4 linked regions of the Homo sapiens genome follow. The protein of the gene in region 4 interacts with the protein of the main gene of each other region in a pairwise test. Each region holds a gene or a part of one and is shown on either strand. Other genes may lie near its edges.

Region 1 (5,160 bases), on a different chromosome or scaffold from region 4:
TCTAAAGGCGGATCTGCACCGCAGGCTTCTGTGTCTCCCACAGCCATTGGCATAAGGAAACACGGACACGGACTACTGGCCCTCAGTGTGCCGTGTGAGCATCCACGCTCCCTCCCACGAACACATGGGGTTCTTGACACAAACTCGCAGGAACGAGAAGGTAACATGGGTCGGGCCCACCCACTGTGTCTCACCACAGATCAGCCTTCTTCCCAACATCAGTGCAGTCTACAGCGTGTCTACTGATTATAGCTAAGCACTTCTTCACTAACCAGTTAGAAAAGAAACCCCAAAAGGCTTTCCATGACAGCCTCGAGAAATTCCGGATTATTTAGCATGTAGATCTCACCTGGTATGTGTTTTATTTCATGCCCTAAGATAAAAAATATTATTTCATTTATACTCAAAGTGGTGGATGGATATTAATCTTTACCTCCAAGATGACTAGCAGATTTATAAAGAAAAAGAAATTTAAAGAACTTCCACAAGAAATAAGTTACACCAAGAATACTGTTATCACTACAAATTTTATTCAGAAACCCATCTTTGTATGTTTTTTTTTTTGTTGTTTTTTAAAAAAAATTCCCCTTATGAACTGGTTTGGTCAATCAACTACAACACTTTCTAGCAGACATAAGGTAAAAATGGCATGGCTCAGAATCGCCCAGATCTTTCACGATCTCTCGACCGCCTCCTGTCACGCTCCCGTCCGCCGCCACCTCCACCACCGCCACCGCCACCGCCACGACCACGGTCTCTAGACCGAGAACGACGCTCCCGGGATCGGGATCTTGATCTATGCCTGCAACCAAGGAAAATAAAGAAAACCGTGCCATCCAAACCACGGCACGCAGCACAGAACCACACCCACTCTCTCAACACGCGCAGCTCCTCAAGCCAACGGCACTGATAAGGAAAAACACTGCTGAAGAGACTGCACGCCGTGACTGAGACACACCCTGATTTCAGGTGTGAAAAGTTTCAGGAGAAAAAAATGTGCAACTTAGAAGTGAACAGGTGTAATACCTTGCATCTTCTGTCTTCTTCTAGAACCAACTCAAATGGTCACAGGAAATCATAATCAAAATGAGCTGGACACATACCATCTTCAACCCTCACTGACCCCACGCTTCAGGCGCTCATAGCTACTGTGTCCATCAGGTTTTTGGGCTGGGGAGAGCAGGCCTGTTTTTCTCTTATGCTTCTTGAATGCTGACAATAAAACAATCGCCACCCATCTATTTACTAGTCCATGTTTAACAGAAGAGGGATGAGAACCTCTCCAGACTCAGAACTCAATCGGTTCGATTCTGACGTCTTGATTTTCTCTGCTCTGTGACCTGTCGTACATTTAAATGTAGGATCAGAGAGATGTGACCGCTGGGCCTGATTCTGCCAGTGTCCCGAAGGGAGGATGCCAGCGATCCCAAGACATAATGAAATGCCCTAAAACCAACAAGCAAAACCAAAAGAAACCCCAGTGGACATGTGAAATATGTAAAGCAAAAGCTTGTCCAACCTGCAGCCCAACACAAATTCATCAACTTGCTTAAAACATTATGAGATTTTTTTTGCAATTAAAAAAAAAGTTATCAGCTATCATTAGTGTATTTTATTTGTGACCCAAGACAATTCTTCTTCCAATGTGTCCCAGGGAAGCCATCCCTGATCTAAAGGAGGTTACAACATCTATTCTTCTTCTTCGTAATATCTGGGAGAATAAACTGCATGCCCACTTTCACCACGAGCCTCATGTCCGCGGCTGCCCAGCTAACCGCCCTCTTGCTTGATTACTAAGATCTGATCTCTACTTGAGAAGTTGGATAATGAAGTTACCTGTGTGCAGGTGAATATTCTTCTCCAAAGAGGACATTTGGATATTTAAAAATATGTACTATGTTCTAAGCACTGCCTTTTAAAAAACAGAAACAACACCTATGCCAAAATTTTTTTTTTGGAAGGGGGAGGGTTGTGAGGGGAGAAAGAAGCCACTGAGCTTAACAACGGGCACAGGAATACTCACTTCTTGCGACGGCGGCCATACAGCTCCCGCCGCAGCTCTCTGGAAATGGGCTTCAAATGCATGAAGTTGCAGAAGCCGCCTCGTGTGCATTCTCTGTGGGTGGGTTGGAAGGAGACATTTACTACCTCGTGTGCACACGGCCCCGAACTGTGCTCAGTCACGTCACTGGCCACTCCTCACTCACCCCATCTCATACTGACGGCAGCAGGCTTCTCTGAAGTCCGTCACGGGTGACAGCTCGGCGTGGATCGGCTGTCCATTAAACCAACGGTTATTCAAGTCAATCACAGCCTTTTCCGCATCTTCCTCACGGCGAAACTGAAAAGACAAAAACAGAAGTGCTTGCCATCCACGCTTTAATAAGACTTTCTCAATTACCAATCCAAGTATGTATCAGAGAGAGATATACACACTCAGGTATAGTAAGGTGGAATAGTATTACAGGATAATTGAAAAATCCTTTATTTTCAATGAGATTAACTTCAAGATAGTCCAAGATTTTGCCAAATGTTGCCTTCATTTTTCAAATTCAACTGGTTAAAGGAGCAAATATGGCTGTGTAGGCAAATAAAGTTTTATTCACTAAAAAAGAAAAAAGAAACCAAACATGTGAGTAAACCTAACTTTTCCTTAGTCCACACAGCTTCTAAACCAACAGGTACTAAATATTCTACACTGAAATAACGATGGCTGTGGTGTACGGTCCGTCCTTCAGTTCTGCTGGCTGGGCGCACGTGTGGGCTGGCCACCGCCACATATGACGCAGCCGGTAGGCGCCGAGCCAGTGCACCTGAGCCCTGCTGTGCGCCTGAGCATCCAGGATCTCAAGGTGCATGGCGACAGGCACCCCATCCTCTGTCGGCCTTGGCCCCGGCACACTAAGCGGCTGCACCACTGTCTCGCTTTCGCCTGTTGGCCTTGGCCCCGGCACACTAAGCGGCCACGCCGCCGTCTCGCCCTGGCTCCTACCTTGACGTACACGTTCCCCACCAGGTGGTCTCCCAGGTTGTCACAGACGTTCATCTCCTCTACTTCCCCATACTTCTCCTCCATTTCTGTAAAAACCTCCTGAAGGGAGACCACAGTGGTTTAAGACTCGTTATACACTACAAAGTGTCATTAGATATAACTCATGTATGTTTATTAGCAGAGAAACATTTTAAATCCTTCCAAACAGATACAGAAGATCAACAGGTCTATCAGTCACAGAGTTCAGTTCTCTCACCTCAAAAAACTCATCATAGTGTTCCTGCATCTCCACATCGCTCACGGCACCTGCAAACAACAGAAATCTTGCTGGTTAGAACATGTTAACCGAGTGAACTCTTGTGTTTAAACTCAAACTGCTACAGTAACACACACGAGATTATCTAGAGAAAAGCCTGGCAGAGCTGCACTCTGCAGGAGCACTCAGGAGACTGAGCCACATGGCTACTTGTGAATGGTGTCAAGTGTGGTGAGATTTTAAATGTCCCCATGACAGTCTCGATTCTGGCTACTAAGGTGTTAAAATCACAACCAGCTTTAATCAGCATCAAAAGGGCCACATTTTCAGAAACTGTGAGGAAAAAGTTGACTCTCAAACTACAAATTTTTTTTTTACACCCACAAGATGCAGTCTGGCTCTGTCGCCCAGGCTGGAGTGCAGTGGCACCATCTCAGCTCACTGCAACCTCCACCTCTGGGGTTCAAGCGATTCTCCTGTCTCAGCCTCTGGAGTTGCTGGGACTACAGGCGACTGCCACCACGCCCGGCTAATTTTTTTTTTTTTTTTTAATTTTTAGTACAGACAGGGTTTCACCACGTTGGCAGGCTGGTCTTGAACTCCTGACCTCAAGTGATCCGCCTGCCTTGGCCTCCCAAAGTGCTGTGATTACAGGCGTGAGACACCGCACCTGGGCTCAAACTAAGAAATATTAAAATTTTCTTCCTTTTAAGATTTAGAGTAAAGGCCAAATAAGCACACTGATGTCTTCCCCTCTTCTATAAGTTTAAAATGAAACCTGAAAGCAGGGTCGATGATTAAAAGCTGATGTTCCTAACTAGTCTTTTATGGACTGCCAGCCATGGTATGCTCTCAAATTCTTCTGATGTGATTAAAATCCAAGCAACCATGAAGATTCAGTAGGACAGTTCACGCAACCTTACGGTATTGTGGACGCCCTCAAGTAAAGGGAATGTTACAATGTTTTGCTGATGAAAGCATTCTTTTTTTTTTCTTTTTTTTGAGACGGAGTCTCACTCTGTCGCCCAGGCTGGAGTGCGGTGGCGCAATCTCGGCTCACTGCAACCTCCGCTTCCTGGGCTCATGCGATTCTCTGCCTCAGCCTCCTGAGTAGCTGGGATTACAGGCGCCCACAACCACGCCCGGCTAATTTTTGTATTTTTAATAGAGATGGGGTTTCACCATCTTGGCCAGGCTAGTCTTGAACTCCTGACCTCGTGATCCACCTGCCTCGGCCTCCCAAAGTGCTGGGATTACAGGTGTGAGCCACCGTGCCCGGCGCAAGTATTCTTAAGTTTTATATTCCCAAACTATTTTCATCAGTTTATTCTTCATAATTCACATGTATTAGGTAAAATCATGTCTGTTGCGTGGGTAAATTTGGCAAATTTACACTCTATCCCCATCATCATTCTATCAAATTTAATTAATTTTTTTTTCTTTTGAGATGGAGTCTCTGTCCACTCCAGGCTGGAGTGCAGTGGCGTGATCTTGGCTCACTGCAACCTCCACTTCCTAGGTTCAAGCAATTCTCCTTCCTCAGCCTCCCAAGTAGGTGGGACTACAGGCGCGCACCACCATGCCTGGCTAATTTTTGTATTTTTAGTAGAGACGGGGTTTCACCATGTTGGCCAGGCTGGTCTCAACCTCCTGACCTCACGTGATCTGCTTACCTCAGCCTCCCAAAGTGCTGAGATTACAGGCATGAGCCACTGCCCCCGGCCCACTCTATCAAATTCTAGAGTTCTCTAAACCTGAGAAATCACAGAGCTGGTGTATCAACAAACATGTTCCAATCAGCTAGATTAGGGGCTGGCAAAAGCCTGACTGGTTTCCAGATTGGGCCGGCTGCCTTAGCCTGTGCACCCAACGTGGGCATCTGACTGCTGGCACACGGGTCTTTGAGCTTGCT
Region 2 (6,837 bases), on a different chromosome or scaffold from region 4:
ATGGAGACCATCCTGGCTAACACGGTGAAACCCCGTTTCTACTAAAAAATACAAAAAATTAGCCAGGCGTGGTGGCGGGCGCCTGCAGTCCCAGCTACTAGGGAGGCTGAGGCAGGAGAATGGCGTGAACCCGGGAGGCGGAGCTTGCGGTGAGCCCAGATCGCGTCACTGCACTCCAGCCTGGGCGACAGAGCGACACTCCGTCTCAAAAAAAAAAAAACAAACAAAAAAAGATATGAAGGAGGGCTGGGCATGATGGCTCACGCCTGTAATCCCAGCACTTTGGGAGGCCAAGGCGGGCGGGTCACTTGAGGTCAGGAAATCGAGACCATCCTGGCTAAAGGTGAAACCCCGTCTCTACTAAAAATACAAAAAATTAGGGGGCGTGGTGGCACATGCCTGTAAGCCCAGCTACTCGGGAAGCTGAAGCAGGAGAATCGCTTGAACCCGGGAGGCGGAGGTTGCGGTGAGCCAATATCTCGCCATTGCACTCCAGCCTGGGCAACAAGAGCGAAACTCTGTCTCAAAAAAAAAAATTAAAAAAAAAAAAAAAAAATTAGCCGGGCGTGGTGGCTGGCGCCTGTAATCCCAGCTATTTGGGAAGCTGAGGCACGAGAATCGCTTAAAAACCCAGGAGGCATAGGTTGCAGTGAGCTGAGATTGCGCCACTGCACTCCAGCCTGGACTACAGAGCGAGACTCTGTCTCAAATAAAAAATAAAAATAAGATATGAAGGAAGGGAGGAAATGAGGGAGGGAGGGAAATTGTTTATAAGCAAATAGGTTTGGGTTTTCTTGTTTTTGATGATAACCAGATCTATCATCTACCTCCAACTTTTCCCTTTTTAAACAAAAGTTATTAATTAACCTCATGATCTGCCTTACTCCCTAAATTTAATTTTAACTGACTCACCTTTTCCTACAGTAAAATAACCACTAAAACGGCAATGATTATCCACTATAGGAGATACTACAAGGTAGAATTATTATAAATTAGGTGTGTCAAGTACTAGTGTACTTGTTAAAATACTAGACTCTTGGACATGGGGAAAGAGGTATTTTCATGCACTGTTATAAATTGGGGAACTCTATATAGATATTAAATAAACCCAGCTTTTGACTCAGCGCTTCTGGAATACACAGCAGAGAGACACAGACAAGGGTTCCCTCCCTCCCCCACAGCCACACCTCCTGCCCCCTCTCTCCATTCTGTTAGGAAACAGTGTTACATATGAATCAATGCTGGTTTGTTTTCTGCAGATGCAGATTAATGACTTTGGAAGACTCACTGCCTCCGGGTAAACTAAAGGACTCATTAATTCAGTTCATTTTACACAATTAAAAAACTTTTTATAAAAAAAGAAAGCGAAAAGAAAAAGCTGGGCTTAGGGGTGCTGGCCTTTAGTCCCAGCTACTCGGGAGGCTACAGCTGGAGGATCATGTGAGACCAGGAGTTTCACCTGGGACCAGCCTGGGCAATATAGGGAGACCTCTTAAAAAAAAAAAAAGGAAAAGGAAAAATAAAAGAAAACCCAACCAGAATACCCCTAAATCTCTCAAATTCATTCCTCTCCAACTCTTTTTTTTTTTTTTTTTTTGTCTTTTTCTTGAAACAAGGTCTCACTATGTCACCCAGACTGGAGTACAGCGGCATGATCACACTGCAACCTCCACCTCTTGGACTCAAGCGATCCTCCCACCTCAGCCTCTCGAGTAGCTGGCACCCCTGCGCCACCACGCCTGGTAATTTTTTGTATTTTTGGTAGAAATGGGGTTTCACTATATTGCCCAGGCTGGTCTTGAACTCATGAGCTCAAGCGATTCTCCTGCCTCCCAAAGTGCTGGGATTACTGGCATGAGCCACCACGCCCTGCTCTTCTGATCCCAACATGTGCTGTGCCAGCCACTGTTTTCTCCAGACACTGTTTTCTCCAGACATGCCCACAACCCTCTAAGTAAAGGCTATTATTTTCATGACTCTCATTTCATGGATGAGAAAACAAAGAGACCTAACGTTATTGCCCAGGTCACACAGCTAGTGAAGGGGAGGTTGGGTTTAAATCCTGTCTGGCTAGCTGCTAAAGCCTTACATTTAAAAATGAATCAATCTGGCCTGGATTTGGTGTCTGTGTTTTTATGTTTTATTTTTATTTTATGTTTTATTTTGAGATGGAGTCTCACACTGTCACCCAGGCTGGAGTGCAATGGCACGATCTTGACTCACTGCAACCTCTGCCTCTCCAGCTCAAGCAATTCTCCTGCCTCAACCTCCTTGGTAGCTGGGATTACAGGCACGCACCATGCCCGGCTAATTTTTGCATTTTTAGTAGAGAAGGGGTTCTGCCATTGTTGGCCAGGCTGGTCTCAAAACTCCTGAACTCAAGTGACCTGCCCACCTCAGCCCCCCAAAGTGCTGAGATTACAGGCGTGAGCCACCATGCCCAGCCCAGAACTCCAGTTATTCTGAATGTTACGTTCAATTACACTGACAAAAGAAAGATGATTCAGTTATACACTTTATACACAAACCTTAATTAGAAAGTCCTACTGGTGGTTACCAAAGGCTGTGGTAAAGAATTGTTAAATCAAAGCCCTAATATCTCCCAGATGACCTCAACTCACCTGGTTTCCTCTTTGCCGCCTTGGGGGTTGCCCAGTCCACAACCTGCACTTCCTTCTCTATTCCTGGGCTCCGTTTACTTACTTTTTCTGTCCGTGGATTTCTAGCCTGTGAGCAGATTACTAACACCATTTGGATAAAGACAGTCTCTTATTTATCATTTTAGGACAAGCAATGAGATGTAGGAAAAAAAAACAACAAAGTAAACCAAAGAACAAAAGAGACTTTGGACCCTGACAAGGGAGGGTTTCAGTCGCACAGCCACTGCTTCCTTCACTTCACATCTCTTGACAATCTGACAGGGAGCACTGATCTGAGGAAAGATTTTTCAAATTATTTTAAGGAGAAAAACTTGAACTTCTTTGGGAGTCAGTAGGTTAGGGGTTCACTTACTGTGCTATTGAAAAAGTTACCAATAAAAATTTATACCAACTTTAGTCATATATAAAATGGGGAACAATAATGACTGAATTTAAAACTCACAATTTGAGATATAAAAAAATACTCGGGCGGGGAGTGGTGGCTCACGCCTGTAATCCCAACACTTTGGGAGGACAAGGCTGGAGAATTACTTGAGGGCAGGAGTTCGAGACCAGCCAGGTCAAAATAGCCAGACCCCCCCACTTGCCCTCTACAAAATAAATAACAAATACTCTATAGACTTTAAAAGCTACTATTATTAGTTCGTTGGCAGATGAAAAGATGCTCGGTATTAGTACAGAGAAACCTGGAGTTTTAGTTGGTTGAGTAACTTACTTAGGAAATGGAATGTATTTGGTACGAGAAAATAGCTTTCTTCAAGCCGCCAGTCTGGTCTCTGAAGTCTACTGTTGCCACAAGTTCCATTATTAAATCCCTTCACACATCCTGCTCAAGTCTCTGGCCACTGTTTTTTTGTTTTTTGTTTTTTGTTTTTTTTCCCCGTAGAATCGTTCTGAAGGAGTGCTCAATCTCCCAATGTCTCCGGAACCATACTTTGGATAATTACATTTAAAGTGAACAGAAAAGGGCCAGGAATAGTATTAGTAATTCAACCCAGACAAAAGTCACCCCATGAATAAGAAAGAATGCAATTTTAGCATTTACAAATTGTGGGGGAGGGAACAGAAGGGGAGAAGAAAAGAAGAGGTGAGGTGGAGAGAAAAAGGGTCTTCGGGCGGCAGGAAGTGGGAGGAGACTTTGCAAATAGCAATCTTGGGGCAGGGGCCATTTTGGAAGCATGTTGCGAGGCTCCGCTTCTTCTACAAGTATGGAGAAGGCAAAAGGCAAGGAGGTCAGTACAGTTTTAGTGGATTTGTTTTCTGTCTGTCTTTGTGTTTCTGTCTTCCCTGGGCACTCCTGATTTTTCCTTTAAGGAGAAAAGAATGTGCCTTCGAATTTTCTCCTCTTGACTTTTTTTTTTTTTATTTTAAGAGTAAGGCCCAAGAATATGATTGCAGCCTGGTATATTGGAGTGAGCAGACAAGTAAGAAATGAGGTTTTCTAGGTTTAGTTGAGGAGGTTGAGTGTGTCAAAAGATGGGGAAAAAAAAAAAAGAGGCCGGGCGCGGTGGCTCACGCCTGTAATCCCAGCACTTTGGGCAGCCGAGGCGGGCGGATCACCTGAGGTCGGGAGTTCGAGACCAGCCTGACCAAAATGGAGAAACCCCGTCTCTACTAAAAGTACAAAATTAGCCAGGTGTGGTGGCGCACACCTGTAATCCCAGCTACTCGGGAGGCTGAGGCAGGAGAATCGCTTGAACCCGGGAGTCGGGGGTTGCGGTGAGCCGAGATCGCCCCATTGCACCCCCAGCTTGGGCAACCAGAGCGAAACTCCACCTCAAAAGAAAAAGTTAAAAAATTAGGTTTTCAGGTTTGTGTTTTGGAACAGGGTTTCACTTTTGTCTCCCTGGCTGGAGTGCAGTGGCACCATCACTATTCACTGTAACCGCCCAGGCTCAAACGATCCTCCCACCTCGGCTTACCAAAGTGCTACTGGGACTGCAGGCGCCCGCCGCTGCTCCCGGCCCGGGTTTTCTGTTTTGAAGAGGTGCTTAGTCCTGTCAGAAAGAACTAACTGAATATGGGGGCTAGAGGGAAATGGTAACAGGAGAAAAGGGTGTTAAAGGAAAGATTTTAGGAAGAGGTAATTGAGCTGAGTTTGGAAAAGAATGAAACCCCTTAATTTCCTTTAGACGGACACAGATCCTAAACCGAGGGTGCTGAGAATGAATTCGTCCCCTTTTCCCAGCGTCCTTAGGACCTAGGAGTAATCAGAAGCCAGACATTGGGAACAATGCAGACAGAAACTGAAGGAAGAGAGGATTTAAGACGTTGCACAGGCACTGAACGGCCATATCCGAGCGCTCTCAGGTCCTCTTGACTTGAACTGGGTCATTTTTAACTGTCTCGGTTTTAAGTCTTTTGTGAGGTCCAAAGTGAGTACTTTTTGTAAGGTTTATGCAAATATAAATTTCAAATCAAAATGTAGAACTGCTATAGAGATGTAAAAATGCCATACAAATGTTAATTTGTCCAGTAATCCACCCTGAAAGTGAAGAAAAGGATTTAGATTTAGGAGAAATTTTATTATATTAATTTTTTTTTTTTAATGAGTTTGACTCTGTCGCCCAGAGTGGTGTGCAGTAGCCGATCTCGGCTCACTGCAGCCTCTGCTTCCCGGGTTCAAGCGATTCTCCTGACTCAGCCTCTCGATTAGCTGGGATTGCAGGCACGCACCACCACGCCCAGGTAGTTTTTGTATTTTTGGTAGTGACTGAGTTTCGATATGTTAGCCAGGCTGGTCTCGAACTCCTGACCTCAATCGGTCAGCCCACCTCGGCCTCCCAAAGTGCCGGGATTACAGGCGTGAGCCACGGAGCCTAGCCTTTATATTTAAATTTTAATTTATATCTAATGTACCCCTAATCTGTGTCTTTATGTTACCTCTGATTCTCAGCTTCTGTGTCTGAGAAGTAATTGTTGCCAGATTGCTATGAGAATTAAATGAATGAAAAAAGGAAGGCCAAGGCCAGGCACAGTGGCACACGCCTGTAATCCCAGCACTTTGGGAGGCTGAGGTGGGCGGATCACTTGAGGCCAGGAGTTTGAGACCAGCCTGGCCAACATGGTGAAACCCCCATCTCTACTAAAAATAGAAAAATTCAGCCGGGTGTGGTGGCAGGCGCCTGTAATTCCAGCTAGTGGGGAGGCTGAGGCAGAGAATTGCTTAAACCGGGGAGATGGAAGTTGCAGTGAGCCGAGATTGGACCACTGCACTACAGCCGGGGTGACAGAGCGAGACTCCTCTCAGAGAAAAAGAAAATAGGGAACCCTTGGGCGCAGTGGCTCGCGCCTTTAATCCCAACTCTTTGGGGAGCCAAGGCGGGAAGATTGCTTGAGGCTAGAAGATTGAGATCAGTGGGGGGAGACATAGGGAGACCTCACCTCTACAAAAAATTATCCTGTAGTCCCACCTGCTCAGGAGGCTGAGGCAAAAGATCACTTGAACCCGGGAGGTAGAGCTTGGAGTGAGCTATGGTCCTGTCACTGCACTCCAGCCTGTGTGACAGGGCAAGACCTTTTCTTTAATAAATAAATATTTTTTAAAAAAATGAAAGTGAGGAGCATATCAAAGCCAATGCCTAGTATGAGACAGAGGCTCAATATATGTTACTGTCTCTGGATTAAACAACTTTTCCCCACTCCCACTTTGCTTCCTTTAATTCAATGAACCAATATTTATTGAGTGCCTATGATGAAAAAGAAATCACACAAACCAATGTAATTGCAATTAACAAGTGGTAGAAATGAGGTAGTATTTAGTAGATTGGTCTGGAAGGACCAGGTTAAATAGCACTTGAGGTGAGACTTTTAAAAGAAGAGTAAGATTTTTAAGGTGTAAGATTTTAAAGTGTAAATAGAAGTAGGGTGGAGGTTGGGGCTGAGGAATGTAACAACTTTGGAAAGGAAAGGAATTATGTGGCTGGAGCTTGGTCAGGGAGAGCAGTGTGAAATAGGAGATAAGAGGCTGGTAGGTAATGTTAAAGACAATTACTTTTATGTTAAGAGCAATAAACCACTGAAACTTTTCATAGTGTCACTCTGCCAACAGTGTTAGAAAATTATTTGGAAGGCGTCAAGAATGAAGGACTGGGGGAAAAAATTCTGCCAGGTGAGAGATGATGGAATATAGTAAGTGAGTTAAGGGCCTCTTTTTTTTTTTTGAGACAGTCTCATT
Region 3 (6,576 bases), on a different chromosome or scaffold from region 4:
TTATTTACTAACCACAACACAGCATTTCACAGTACTTCTCACGTATATTTATGGTATTCTGAATGGTAGAATGAAAGGATGTTTGAAATAATGAAGAGTAAACGATTTCATTATCAAATATATCTCACTGAAACTGACTGTTCCAACATGTGAGTTCATAAAATAATGAAAATGATTTTCACAACCTAATCTGGAATCTGAGAAATCAATTTTATCCTTTAAAGCAATAACCAAAACGTGGGATGGTAGTATTTCTTTACATGGCAAAGATGAGGTTAATATTAAAACATAATGACATTTGAGAAATGGATCTTTGTCTTGGCATTTATAAGAACTTTCAATCCGGATTAAGTTTGGCTTTAAAAAAGAAAACACTTTAAAAAGGAAAAACATATTTTCCATGCTGAAGACGGTTTTTGTTTGGGTAGTAGGTAGTATCTTCTGTTTTGCTTGGATAGTATTTAGTGTAGTATGTTGGGTTTCTCAGGACGCAGCCTCTGAAATGGAGTTAGGATGTTTATGAAGCAGCACCCTTGGGATCTACACCTGTCGAAGTGGGGAAGGAAGCAGGTTCAAGTAGGAGAAGCTGAGCTTCCCTGCAGGCGCATCATTCGCCACAGCCAACCCCACTGGGAACTCAGAGTTTGAGTGGCCCTTCAGAGTATCCTGAGCTGGGACACTCCCACACCGATCAGTTATTGGATGTGCACCTGCAACCCCCATCCCAGCCACAGGACCTGACCTGGCTAAGACAGCCCTTTGCAGCTGAGACAATCCTTAAGGGCTAGCATTTAAGCAGCTGGAAGTCCTTTATTGAAGAGGGACCTGGATGCCGTATCACAGTGCAGATAGTGTGAGAAACAGCCAAGAAGTCAGGTTTGTTGGATGTTCTTTCTGATGAATTGTTGACACTATAATGTTGGCTAACTTACGGTTTTAAAAAGAAAATGATAACTTGCCATATTTCTGTGTGTAAAGAATTGTACTAAATAAAAGACTTTTTCATGGTTAATGTGGTTTGGAAAATAGGATTTTAAAGAGCATATTTTAATAAATGAGCGTTAAATTTTAAAGTATAATTGTCTTAGTTCATTCAGGCTGTTATGTCAAAGTACCTAAACTGAGTAGCTTATAAACAGCAGGGATTTATTTCTCACCATTCTGGATGTCAAGAAAGCCAAGATCAAGGTGCCTGCAGATTCATTGTCTGGTGAGGGACAGCTTCCTGGTTCATAGATGGCTGTCTTCTCACTGTGTCCTCACATGGCAGAAGGGGTAAAGAAGCGCTCTGAGGTTTCTTTTATAAGGGTACCAATCCCACTCATGAGGGTTCCACTCTCACGCCTGATCACCTACCACAGGCCCCAGCTCCTAATACTATCACATTGAAAGTTGGGATTTCAACATGTGAGTGGGAGTCACGAACGTTCAGAGTATAACAATAATAGTAAGAAAACACAGGCATATGGTTTATTTGATTTGGGATTGTCCTATGAAGAGCAAACTATGAATTATAATGAATAATGGAATATTATAATACTTTGTGGTAGGTCTTGATCTTTGGGGAAACACTGTTAAATAAATCACAGGATGACGCTGGTAGTTTGTCAGAGAATCAAGCGTAAGCAAGTATATAATGAAGGAGGGAAAATGTATATGTTGTTTATGGAACAGTCATTTAAGTCTAGCCTTTAAGAATTTATGTTAATTCCATCTATTAATGCTATCTACCTATTAATTTCATGCATTTTTTCCCTTATCATTTAGTCATAGCTTGAATTATGTTCCTACTGCATGCACGGAGTCTTCTATACCTGCTTAATACATGAGACATGGTTCTCAAAAGGACCCACAATCTCTTAAAAAATCACATTTGTTAATATCATCGCCAATTTAATCAGAAACGTATACAATTCGAGAAGATGTCACGCTCATGGTGCGGAGTTTTCTAAATTTAATTTTCCCTTAGAAATTTCAGCTTTATCATTGGCAATAAATATTGTCAGTAGTTTCCTTGAAGCCAGGCTCATTTTGTTCATTTCTGAAGAAAATGTCTACCAAATACCCAAATCTAAATAGCCATAGTTTTCTGTTGTTCTTTAAAGTAAAAATGGCGTTCCATGAACAAAGAGGCTAGTTCAGCTCACAACTCAGTTACGTGAGTGCTTTTCCTGAAGACAGATTTCCTATTTCAGTATGAGGAAGACGGGTTTTATGGTTATTTCCATTTCATCACACAGACTATTAGGAAGATAGTCTTTCTAATGGCTCAGAGGTTGAGATTCAATAAAATAACTTATTTTTCTTCTCCATCAAGGATTTTCTTAAGTAAAACTGGGTTTTTTAAAAAAAAATTGCTAATGCATGTCAGTGGTAAAGAACCTACTGACTGCTAGTACAGTTTGGCATCAGTGTCTTTGCTGCTAAGGCACTGGCAATATTATCCTCCCTTGTTTCTGTGCCATTAGTACAATGGCAACACAGTAAAAAAGTCAGACAAGACTGGGCGTGGTAGCTCATGCCTGTAATCCCAGCACTTGGGGGAAGCCGAGGTAGGAGAATTGCTTGAGGCCAGGAATTTTAGACCAGCCTGGGCAACATAGCAAGACCCTGTCTCTTAAAAAAAAAGTCAAACAGTGTGTTAGTATTATTATAAAGAGAGTTATGAACTCATTACCCCTGAAAGTGTCTCCAGCCCACACTGAGAACCGCTGGTACAAAGAAGAGTGTAAGCGCAAAGAGCCTGGGGAAAGAAAACCGCTTAGGCAATAGATAAAAAAGGCCGAACTTCATATGATGGCAGGAGAGATGGAGAACAGGGAAGGAAGTGAGAAACCCTGGCAGAGGTTCCATGGAAAAGATTTGGCAGTAGAAGGGCAGCAAAGAGTTGAAATGTACTGAGGTTTTCAGTCTGCATAACTGAGTGGATGGCAATTCCATTAACTGAGATGATGACTGGGGGAAGAGGGGCCCTGTTTTATTATTGAAAACGATACTGCTTTTCACACTGAGAGAGAAAAATCTATCATAATTCTTGCATTTGGAAAAGGGTGGATTCTAGCACTAGTGAGAAAGTACTGTTGGCCAGGTCTCTGCAGCAGCCTGAGATTTGATTTAGTACTGATAATGAGTTTTGGTTCTTGGAACATCAGAGCATTCTGTTTCATGCATAAGACTCTTATGTCTGTGTTTCCTGTAATAGTGTTGTTTTTTTCTTCTTTATTTCCAGGAATGGTGCAAAAGCTGGACCAAAAGCTTCCAGTGGCTAATGAATACCTGTTGCTCTCTGGAGGTGTCCGGGAAGGCGTGGTGGACCTGGACTTAGATGAGCTTAATGTCTATGCCCGGGGTACTGACTATGATATGGACTTTACCCTCTTGGTGCCAGCCCTCAAGCTGCATGACCGTAATCAGCCTGTGACACTCGACATGCGCCACTCAGCCTTGTGCCACTCTTGGCTGAGCCTTCGGCTCTTTGATGAGGGGACAATCAGTAAATGGAAAGACTGCTGCACCATTGTAGATCACATCAATGGTGCCACCAACTACTTCTTCTCACCTACCAAAGTGGCTGACTGGTTCTATGACTCTATCAGCATTGTCCTATCAGAAATACAGAAGAAACCCCAGCGAGGGATGCCAAAGGTAGAAAAGGTGGAAAAAAATGGGACCATCATCTCCATCATTCTGGGTGTAGGGAGTAGTCGCATGTTGTATGATATTGTCCCTGTGGTATCTTTCAAAGGTTGGCCTGCAGTGGCCCAGAGCTGGCTCATGGAGAACCACTTTTGGGATGGGAAGATTACTGAGGAAGAGGTCATCAGTGGGTTTTACTTGGTGCCTGCTTGCTCCTACAAGGGTAAGAAGGACAATGAATGGCGGCTGTCCTTTGCCAGGAGCGAGGTGCAGTTGAAGAAGTGCATCTCCAGCAGCCTCATGCAGGCCTATCAGGCCTGCAAAGCCATCATCATTAAACTGCTGTCCCGGCCCAAGGCTATTAGCCCCTATCACCTGCGGAGCATGATGCTCTGGGCCTGCGACAGACTTCCTGCCAACTACTTGGCTCAAGAAGACTATGCAGCCCACTTTTTGCTGGGCCTCATCGATGACCTGCAACACTGTCTGGTCAACAAGATGTGCCCCAATTATTTCATCCCTCAGTGCAACATGCTGGAACATCTGTCTGAGGAGACAGTCATGCTTCACGCCCGGAAGCTGTCCTCTGTGCGCTCAGACCCGGCAGAGCACTTGCGCACCGCCATTGAGCATGTCAAGGCAGCCAACCGGCTGACACTGGAGCTCCAGAGGCGAGGTAGCACCACCAGCATCCCCTCTCCACAGTCTGACGGAGGGGACCCCAACCAGCCTGATGACCGTTTGGCAAAAAAACTGCAGCAGCTAGTGACTGAGAACCCGGGAAAGTCAATCTCTGTCTTTATCAATCCTGACGATGTCACAAGGCCCCATTTCAGAATTGATGACAAATTTTTCTGAGTGTTAGCTGACTTTTTTTTTTCCTGATTCTTAAACTCTGATAATGTGTCGTGTGGTTTGTGATGCTATCTTTCTGTTTTTTACATATCCAGCCTAGATTGGATTTGTTAAGAACAAATTTTAAGTTTCCTGGTTCTGCAGGATGGTGCAGGCTCTGAAACAGTATATTACTATTTCATATTCTGCCTCTGATTTCGTTGTTTACTTTTTGTAGTTATTGTCATGCTCTTTAGTTTGTTGGAGTTTTTTTTCTTTTTAAGGAGATCTTAAGCCATAGATGAAAATGCCCATGAATCCTCTTGCTTTTTTCTGTTTCATACTTGGTGCAAATTTGTTCATGGGTATGGGGAAACAAATCTCTTTCTGATGCTTAACGATTCTATCCTATTATTTTTATTATTTTGTTTTTGTCTTTTTTCTTATGAGCTTTCACCACTACTGATATTTGAGAATCATATGAACCTGGGAACTACTTGGCATGTTAGCTGGATTTATTTATTTTGGCCAGTGACCAGAGTAGTTTCCCCCCTTTTCCACCAAACAATGTAAACTTTGAAAGTGATAATACTACAAATTGTGTTTTGGAGCAACTTCATTGAATGTAATTGTCCTCAAATCAGAGAACACTGGGTGGTTTGAAGGGTGTCTTTGACAGTTTTCCAAGCAGAATTAAGGTTTCCAAATGTTAATTTTAGCATATGTAATTATTTGAAGCCTTATTTAAATCCTATTAAAGAACATACCATTATAATTATTATTTGCACTAATCTTTGCCATTGTCAGAATTGCAAAGTGTGTTTCAATATAAATTAACAACCACTCTCGAAATTCTATCATTTTTTCATTTTGCCCATTTCTATCAGTGAAATGATTCTTTGCATTTGCTTAGTTCTCCTTCAGTTGTGGGGTCCTGCTTTGCCCTCTTTGATATTCCTGGTTCCTGTCTTACTGAGAGAAGTTGTTAAAGCTTTATACATGTTGACCCCATCTAAAGCTGGGGAAAATATACACTTGATGAAGTAGGTGTCTTTGTATTTATTTCTTTTGGGGTCATAGAGGTAAGCTTTTTTGTAAAATCTCTACTCTTCCTGAGAGTTTTGAGAAAAACTGGCAGGAAGAACTTATAATCCCCAAATAGAAGATACCACGTCTGTTCAAAAGCAGGTATTGCTATAGAGCAGCACCCAGGAAATATCTGTGGGTGGCAGCCTTGGTATAGAGGTGTCCTGTCTTCATGAGTGAAGTTACTTGCCTGATTAGGTGCTGGAAGGTATTGGCTCCCTGTTTTGGTGTGGACTCATGGCAAGCTGGTGTTTAAGAGGTCAGGAGGCCTGCTGATCTTTCAAAGGACACCCATGATGTCTACTCATAGAAAGGGCAAGTAACGTGTTCATTTTGGTCTTGAATGTCCAAACTCAAGGGTTGGATTTTGGCCAATTGAAATCAGACATATGCGATCTTGGGTTTTTGCATGGAAATTAATGTAATGCTTATAAATGAAAAATGAAAACATTTCAACCATCTAAGTCAAACACAAAAATAATAAAAAAAGAAACATACTGGCCTTGAAATTTTGTTGTTGTTTGTAATCTGGGAATTATTTTCTTATTAGTATTATATTAGTATATTTATATATTAGTATATTTTCTTATTAGTATTATACTAACAGCAATTTTCAATAAATACAGCCATGGGCTTGCTAGTGTCTTTCGGACCAGTTGTCCATATAGTGAACAACCAACATTCAGTCTTCCTCTTTCCCCAGTTTTACTACTAATGTCTATCCGCCACATCATCCTTGTCCTTCTCAGGAAATGATTTCATCCCTAGTGCTGAAAACGCGTCATAATTGGAAAAGCTGATCTGCACAAACCATCTCCCTGGCCACAACATTAACAAGCGACACAGAATGTAAGCCGCTCCAGTCAGGGACACGCTCAGCGTTCCAAACTGGAATGCTGGGACAGAAACATACACTCTCCCTGGATATGGAGGAGAAAGCATTTGGATTCTTTTGCTACTGACAACTATCACACGATCTTTATTTATTTGTGTATTTATTTTTAATACACTTTAAGTTCT
Region 4 (6,994 bases):
GAATCCTGAGCTTCTGGTTTGGGCAACAGGATGAGGGACTGTTTTACTATCTATATTTCTACCCATATGAGATAGCAAGTATAAAAAGGGCTGATTTGGGGTAAAAAACTTTTATATCAGATATGTTGAGTTTGAGGTGCCTATAGGACATCAAGATGCAAATGTCTAGTAGATAGCTGTCTTGAGCCACATCAAAGTTAAGAAGAGAAAACTGGGACTGCAGATTTGAGTCATGAGTAAACAGGCTAGTTAAAACAGGCTAGTTGGATGTGATTGCTTGGGGCAAGCATACTAAGTAAGCAAGAAGTGGGCCAAGGATGAAACTCTGGGGAACACTTATATTTTAGGAGCAGGCTAAGAATAAAGATCCAGTGAAGTTGATGGGAAAAGAACAGTCTAATAAGAGAGCTGGAAAACTAGAAGAGAGTAGTTATTACAGCTAAGGGAACAGAGAGTTTCACAAAAAAGGGAGTTTACAGTGATGCAATTGTCAATAGCCAGTTTATGAACTGTTTGCCAGTCCACAAGAAGACTAAAGAGCTTGGACCACAATGTAAATTAACTGCTTCCTTCATTAACAAAATCAAGAAAAAAAAAGAACAGCTGAACAAAACAGTGTATCCTGTGACATAAATGATTGAGGCAGCGCATAACAATACACAACAGAGTGACCAGCAGATATACAGCATTCACTCTTATTTTTGGTGAACAAATGAGACCTTAAAACCTACTGGACTTTTTATAAGCTTGGGAAACTGAAAACAAACAAGGAAAAAAAGAACCTACTGGACTTTAATAAACCCAACATGCCTAATTTTACAATTAGAATTTTCTTTCTTTCTTTTTAAATATAGATGGGGTCTCACTTTGTTGCCTATGCTGGTCTTGAATTCCTGGCCTCTCAAAGTGCTGGAATTATAGGTATGAGCCACCATACCTGGCCCTTAAAATTTTCATGGTGGAACTCTTTTGCACTCTTTGATCAAACTCCTTTGTTTCTTCCACTTCTATTAAAAAAAAAAAAAAACTTTACTGGAGTATGACATATAAAAAGCTGTACATATTTAATGTATACAACCTGAGTTTGGTGACAAGTATATCCCTGTGAAACCATCATCACAATCTACACTATAAACATATCCATCACCTCCAAAAGTTTCCTCCTACCCTAATAAATTTTTCTATTTATCTTCATTTAATATAGTTCCTTTATCCTTAGTTAATAAAGAATGCTAGAGGTCACCCCCTCTCCCCATAAAGTGTTAACTATCTAGAAAGGTCTGCTAATCAAAAACATTTCATTCTTCTCCTCTATCCTGGGAAAAGTATAAAACAGATCAAAGAGGCCAACAATATTTGGTACATTTTACATAACACTTTACACAGATGAGAAGAATGTAGGTTCTAAGCCTATAACTGCTTTACTGAATTTCTCATAGCGGACTTGCAAAAGTTATTCTCTGTGGATTTCTTTTTTCTTGTAAGAAAGCTGATACATTGAAATTTATAAAGCGAAATGTCAAAAGTTCCAGTAAAAAATTATGATTTCTCAGGTATATTTGTCTCTAAATATAAACAGCAAATAAGCAAGCACCTGAATTCCATCTAATCTCTTCATTCTTGTAAAAATAGTAACAGCTGACCCCCTAAGTATGCAGAGAAAGGAAATGTCTGTGTTTGGTGTCAAAAGTTATTGAGCCAACCAAATACAAGAAACCTCTCCCTCCCACAGTTGCAACCACACAAACACAAACTGGTGCAGTGGAAAAAAAATCACTGGGTTAATCAGGTGTTCCAGATCCTAGTTCTGGTACAACATTTAACTAGCTGTGTAACTCTTGGCAAATTTGTTTCCTCATTTATAAAATGAGGAGATGGGGCTGGATGATTACCAAAGAGCTTTCAAGGTGTATCTGTGTTATTAAAATTTCATGGGGGAGTTATTAAGAAAAAATGTTTAATAAGACTCCTTAGGAAGGTAACAGTGAAAAAAAAGTTGAGAATCACTGGTCTAGAAGTGAGAGTATATAGCAGTATCTCATCACCTCAACTCGTTCTAAAAACAAATAAAAGCTTAGTTATTTTCACAAGTTTCTATGTAGGGGCAATCAACATTTTATTGAGCACCTCCTCTCTGTAGTGGACACAGTGATAGATGCCTACGTTGTTTCAAATCCTTTATCTTCACTATTTCACTTAATCCTCACAATTAAGTCAATCATCCTTAATTTACAGATTAGAAGACTGAGGGTCAGATATTACAAATATTTTGTGCAAGGTCTTAAGGCTAAAAGTGACTGCTCGAATAACTAGAATCCAGGTTTGACTCCAAAGCTGATTCTTTCTACTTCACTCTTTTGCTTTTCATTACTATGATATTCACCAAAGTATTACAACTGGTAGACCTGTAATTATGTAAAACACTAAACTTCAACGAGTTTAGTCATCAAAAAGACACTAGATTATTAGGTAATTTTTTTAAAGATCTATCTTAAGTAAACGGGGAGGCTTCTTTGTACAGAAAAGTAGAGTTCAGAAGCCGTGATCCCTGGGATCCGAAAAGACAAAAAACCAGAATCAGCTGAAGGAAGTACTGAGGAATTTTGACATTAGTCTTCGCATATTATGGATTTGCATTCTGGCCGACAAAGATTCTCTAGGCCACCGGTCTCCTCGCTGTTGCAGAATAAACGCTGAGGACCCGCTGCGTCAGCGAGCTGCTCAGCAGAGAAAGGCGAGACCACCAGGGCTTTAGGCCTAGAGAAGCGGAGGCTGTCCTAGGGATCTCAGAGACACCATCACTTTCACTTCCAGCAGCCTCTGGGAAGGCGGTCCCTGTGGGCCTAATCCCTCCCCGGGTCTGTTTACTCACTTTTTTGATATTGGATTTGGAGGCAGGATGAAAGTCTTTCTTGCACATGAAGTTGGCGAAGGATTTCCCCATCTTGGAACTGGAACTAGGGAAAGCAGGGGCTAGATCTGTTAGCAACGTAAACAAACTCAGCCGCCTAACCGGAACTGCGTTTCCAGCAGCAAGGGGGAACTTCCGAGATCAAAGGTGACAGCTTCCGGCAACTGATGCCTCCACTGGCCACTCCTCCCTCCGTCCACCTGTCACTTCGGGTAGCTGGGAGGCCAGGTGAGGGGCGCGCACGGGGGAGGGGCGTGCATAGTTGAGACAGAAACCCGGAAGACCCAACTGTGGCGCGGCACTGCTTGACCGAGGGGCTCCGGAGCCCAGCTGCACCGGCTGCGGTTTGAGCGCCCAGGGCCGGGGTGCGGGGTGGACCGCGGCGGCCCTTCGACCAAAGGTGCTTGAAGCTCGAGCCCATTACTTTCTGTGGACTCTGACTCGAGCTGCAAAAGCTTTTCTGCACTGTTTTTCTCATCTATGTTATGAAGATAATAATTCCGGCCCTAACCGTAGTATGCTTGCGAGAATCCAACAATATGATGTTTCTGAAAGCGCCGGCTGAACTAAGAGCGCGTGAAATAGAATGACAGACAGCTCTGCAAGAACGGAGGCCCTGTCTATTTTGTACCCAGCTGTACGGTACTGGCGCCGAAAGACGTTCAATAAATACTTATTGAATGACGAATACGCGTTAGGAGTTGGTAAAATCTCTCAAGGCTTCACCTCCTCAGTGGGCTAGGTGCAATTCTAACCAGGGGGCAAGTTTCCTTAGCTTTCCCTACGACCCCAGTTAGGCAGCTCAGGTTACTATTGCAGCTTGATGGCCCTTGGGACTCCAGGTTTTTGAGTGGACGTGGCTGCTACTGCAGCAGGTGATCCACCAACCAAGTTCTCTATCAGGGTAATGTTAAGAATAAACCTTGGCCGGGCGCGGTAGCTCACGCCTGTAATCCCAGCACTTTGGGAGGCCAAGGTGGGTGGATCACCTGAGGTCAGGAGTTCAAGACCAGCCTGGCCAACATGGTGAAACCCCGTCTCTACTAAAAACACGAAAAATTAGCCGGGTGTGGTGGCACGCGCCTGTAATCCCAGCTACTCGGGAGGTTGAGGCAGGAGAATCACTTGAACGCGGGAGGCGGAGGTTGCAGTGAGCCAAGACTGCTCCATTGCACTCCAGCCCGGGCAACAAGAGTTAAACTCCATCAAAAAAAAAAAACAAAAAACGAATAAGCCTTTATGAGAAATTTTCTCTCCTACCAAATAATAACAATAACAGCTTTCATGTGAGTATCTACTATGTTCTATGCACTGTGCAAAACACTTTACGTGTTGCCTTATTAAGTTCTCATAACAGCCCATCAAATAGTGTCTTATTTTTCTGATGAGGCAGAAGGCATAGGTAAGAGAGAGATTAAATAGTCTGCCAAAGTTATATAGTGATAGAACTAACTATAAAACACAAATAGAAGGAGATCCAGGACATAAGAGTTGAAATACAGAAAGAAAATAACAGAAGCCATCAAGACATCAGACTTCTCGTCACTGAGGAGAAGAGGAAAACCCTTAAGAGTTTCAGTCTGAAGTTTTTATTTAGTCATTTTCTTTTCTTTTTAAGGAAACATTTATTATATTTAAATTTTGTTTTTAAGTTGCTAGCATCTGCCTGTGTAAAGCCATTTTAAGGTTTTGCCATTATTAAAGGAAAGAAGGAAACTCTGTAAAACAATGTGTCTGTTCTGGCAGCAAAATAAGGACCTTTAGGTGTTCTATTATAAGTGAAGATCTAAGATTTTCCAAGTTACAACTGAAGAGGTAATCTAGATATTAAAGTATATAATTGCGATTTATAAATTAAATATGTGAACTTTCTCCTAGAAATATCAGCAATTTGGAATTATATTGACATATTTTTGTCTGAATCAATGAGTCTGTTTCAAAATTTCAGTCTCATCAGAATTATAATGTGTATTATTTCCCAGCTCAAATAAGACCCCTTCTTCCTTCCTTTGAGGAAGTACTGGGCACGTAAGATTTTTTTCCATAAGACAAGTTCCAGCAAAGAGAATATAAAGATTAGTAAGACATACTCCCAGCCCTCAAGGATCTCATTGTCCAGTAAAGGGATTTATATATACACGAATGTAATGGAATCTAGCCTTTACAACAATAGAGCTAGGTACACGGATTCCCAAATATGGAAATGGTGAAACGAAATTCAGGGAAGACTTTAGGAGAGAAAGGTCTTAGAGAATAAATGTGAACTATACAGTAGAAGAAGGTAGTTCTCATTGCCATTTTCTTACTGAGTTGTAGTACCAGATTGAGTCCCAAGTCATATTCTTACTGATTTTTAGGCTGTAGTATACAAAATTTAAAACTTTAATGAACAGCCAAGCACGGTCACTCATGCCTGTAATCCCAGGGCTTTGGGAGGCAGAAGGGGGAGGATCTCCTGAGCCCAGGAGTTCCAGGCTGCAGTAAGCCCTGATCATACAACTGCACTCCAGCCTGGGTGAAAGAGCTAGACCTTGTCTCCAAAAAATAAAAATAAAAAAATCAAAGCTTTAATGAACATCCTTAATTAGATATGGCAATAATATCCTTTGGTCATTGAGTAAAACTCTTTATTTTTATATACTTAAAAGTGTTCTTTTTATTTTAAAACATCTGTATAATTTTTAGTTAAAAAAAATGGAACCTTTTTCCTGTGACACTTTCGTGGCATTACCTCCAGCAACAGTCGATAACAGGATTATTTTTGGAAAAAATTCAGATAGACTCTATGATGAAGTACAAGAGGTGGTTTATTTTCCTGCTGTAGTTCATGATAACCTGGGAGAACGTCTTAAGGTAGGTGAAATAAATGTTTTGTTAGCAATATGCCTTTTAAAAATATCATAAAGTTATTTCTATACATAGCAATTTGGAAGAAACTGTAGAAGTTAAAATTGAGGAGTTTACATTTGAAAAATAAATGAGTCAGAAATAAACTGTGATCTTTTATTTCAGTGATTCGGAGGACGTTGAAATAACAATAATAAAATTATCCATTGTTTGAATAAATATTTGAATGCTTTCCATATGCAAGCATGTTAGATAGGGCAAGAGATTTAAAGTCAGCTGTCAAGACTCTGTTCCAGGAGCTTAGAGTCTAGTATAGCAATAAGATGTGTATGCATTATACCCCATTATAAAATAGGATGGTTTAAATGCTAAATTTAAGTAACAGTAGCATGCTGTGGCAGCGGAAGAGAATGAACATTTAATTCAGCTTGGAGTTAGCTGGAATTTGATGGACAAAAAGGATTCTGATTCTGAATTGGCTTAGGTTCTACTTGATGTAGAATAGGAAAGTCATCCCAGACTTTAGGAATGACAGTTTTATGACACATCAAAAAAGGTTTATTAGGCCCTATGTTAACACTATCAATATACATTTTATGCAGTCACTTGGTAGTATACACATTAATTAAAGGATCCTTTAAAAACTTATTTTAAAAACCCATTTAATGTGGAACTTAAAATGAGAGCTTCAAATTATGCTATTGTTGCTAATTCATACTTTTTAGATTTTATTTTATTGATATTCTAATATTAAAACATATTAAATATTAGACTTTTTTCTGTATCCTATGCCATATTTTTTTCTTTTGCTAAGACCACTTATTCATCTGTGATACCACTTCCACTTTATTTCTTCATATTTAAATATAGCCTGTCCTGTAAACCAGTGGTTCTCATTCTTTTCATTGCTGTGGGCATACCTAATGGTTGACTTCAAAATGTGATGTGAGATTCCTATGACAAAACTCTTGTATTCGAAGGCTACCATGTGAGTAATTATATCACTAATCAAGAAACACTGGATATTGAGGTTGAGAACTACTTCCTTAAGCTTCAACTCACACATCTACAAAAATGTTTCAAGATATTACAGCTAGAGACCATCTTTCTCCTGAGCTCCAATAGCACCTTGTCTTCACTTCATGACCCTAATACTTTATACTTTATTTTATCTTAATGTAGAAGTTTTAGTTTCTCAAAAGTGAGATCTTTATCTGATTCATCTTTGTAACTAAC

What was found.
Region 1: the proteins of CIRSR (region 4) and splicing factor U2AF 35 kDa subunit-like protein interact in binary tests that used the Homo sapiens proteins (3 or more experiments, as listed by UniProt).
Region 2: the proteins of CIRSR (region 4) and DPPA4 interact in binary tests that used the Homo sapiens proteins (3 or more experiments, as listed by UniProt).
Region 3: the proteins of CIRSR (region 4) and MB21D2 interact in binary tests that used the Homo sapiens proteins (3 or more experiments, as listed by UniProt).

The regions. Positions count from the first base shown.
Region 1 is NC_000021.9:6,484,115-6,489,274, forward strand, and holds the end of splicing factor U2AF 35 kDa subunit-like protein, read right to left. Parts: intron 3,299-5,160; coding exon 3,249-3,298; intron 3,092-3,248; coding exon 2,993-3,091; intron 2,342-2,992; coding exon 2,208-2,341; intron 2,117-2,207; coding exon 2,024-2,116; intron 803-2,023; coding exon 655-802; 3' UTR 509-654; downstream 1-508. UniProt on the Homo sapiens protein: Plays a critical role in both constitutive and enhancer-dependent splicing by mediating protein-protein interactions and protein-RNA interactions required for accurate 3'-splice site selection. Recruits U2 snRNP to the branch point.
Region 2 is NC_000003.12:109,334,519-109,341,355, reverse strand, and holds the start of DPPA4 (developmental pluripotency-associated protein 4), read left to right. Parts: upstream 1-3,809; 5' UTR 3,810-3,838; coding exon 3,839-3,892; intron 3,893-4,648; exon of another isoform or gene 4,649-5,035; intron 5,036-6,837. UniProt on the Homo sapiens protein: May be involved in the maintenance of active epigenetic status of target genes. May inhibit differentiation of embryonic cells into a primitive ectoderm lineage.
Region 3 is NC_000003.12:192,796,304-192,802,879, reverse strand, and holds the end of MB21D2 (nucleotidyltransferase MB21D2), read left to right. Parts: intron 1-3,229; coding exon 3,230-4,494; 3' UTR 4,495-6,065; downstream 6,066-6,576. UniProt on the Homo sapiens protein: Probable nucleotidyltransferase that catalyzes the formation of cyclic dinucleotide second messenger in response to some unknown stimulus.
Region 4 is NC_000002.12:174,392,679-174,399,672, forward strand, and holds the start of CIRSR (corepressor interacting with RBPJ 1), read right to left. Parts: upstream 3,035-6,994; 5' UTR 2,945-3,034; coding exon 2,873-2,944; intron 1-2,872. Other genes in the region: SCRN3 (secernin-3), read left to right, coding at 3,498-3,548, 5,597-5,764. UniProt on the Homo sapiens protein: May modulate splice site selection during alternative splicing of pre-mRNAs. Regulates transcription and acts as corepressor for RBPJ. Recruits RBPJ to the Sin3-histone deacetylase complex (HDAC). Required for RBPJ-mediated repression of transcription.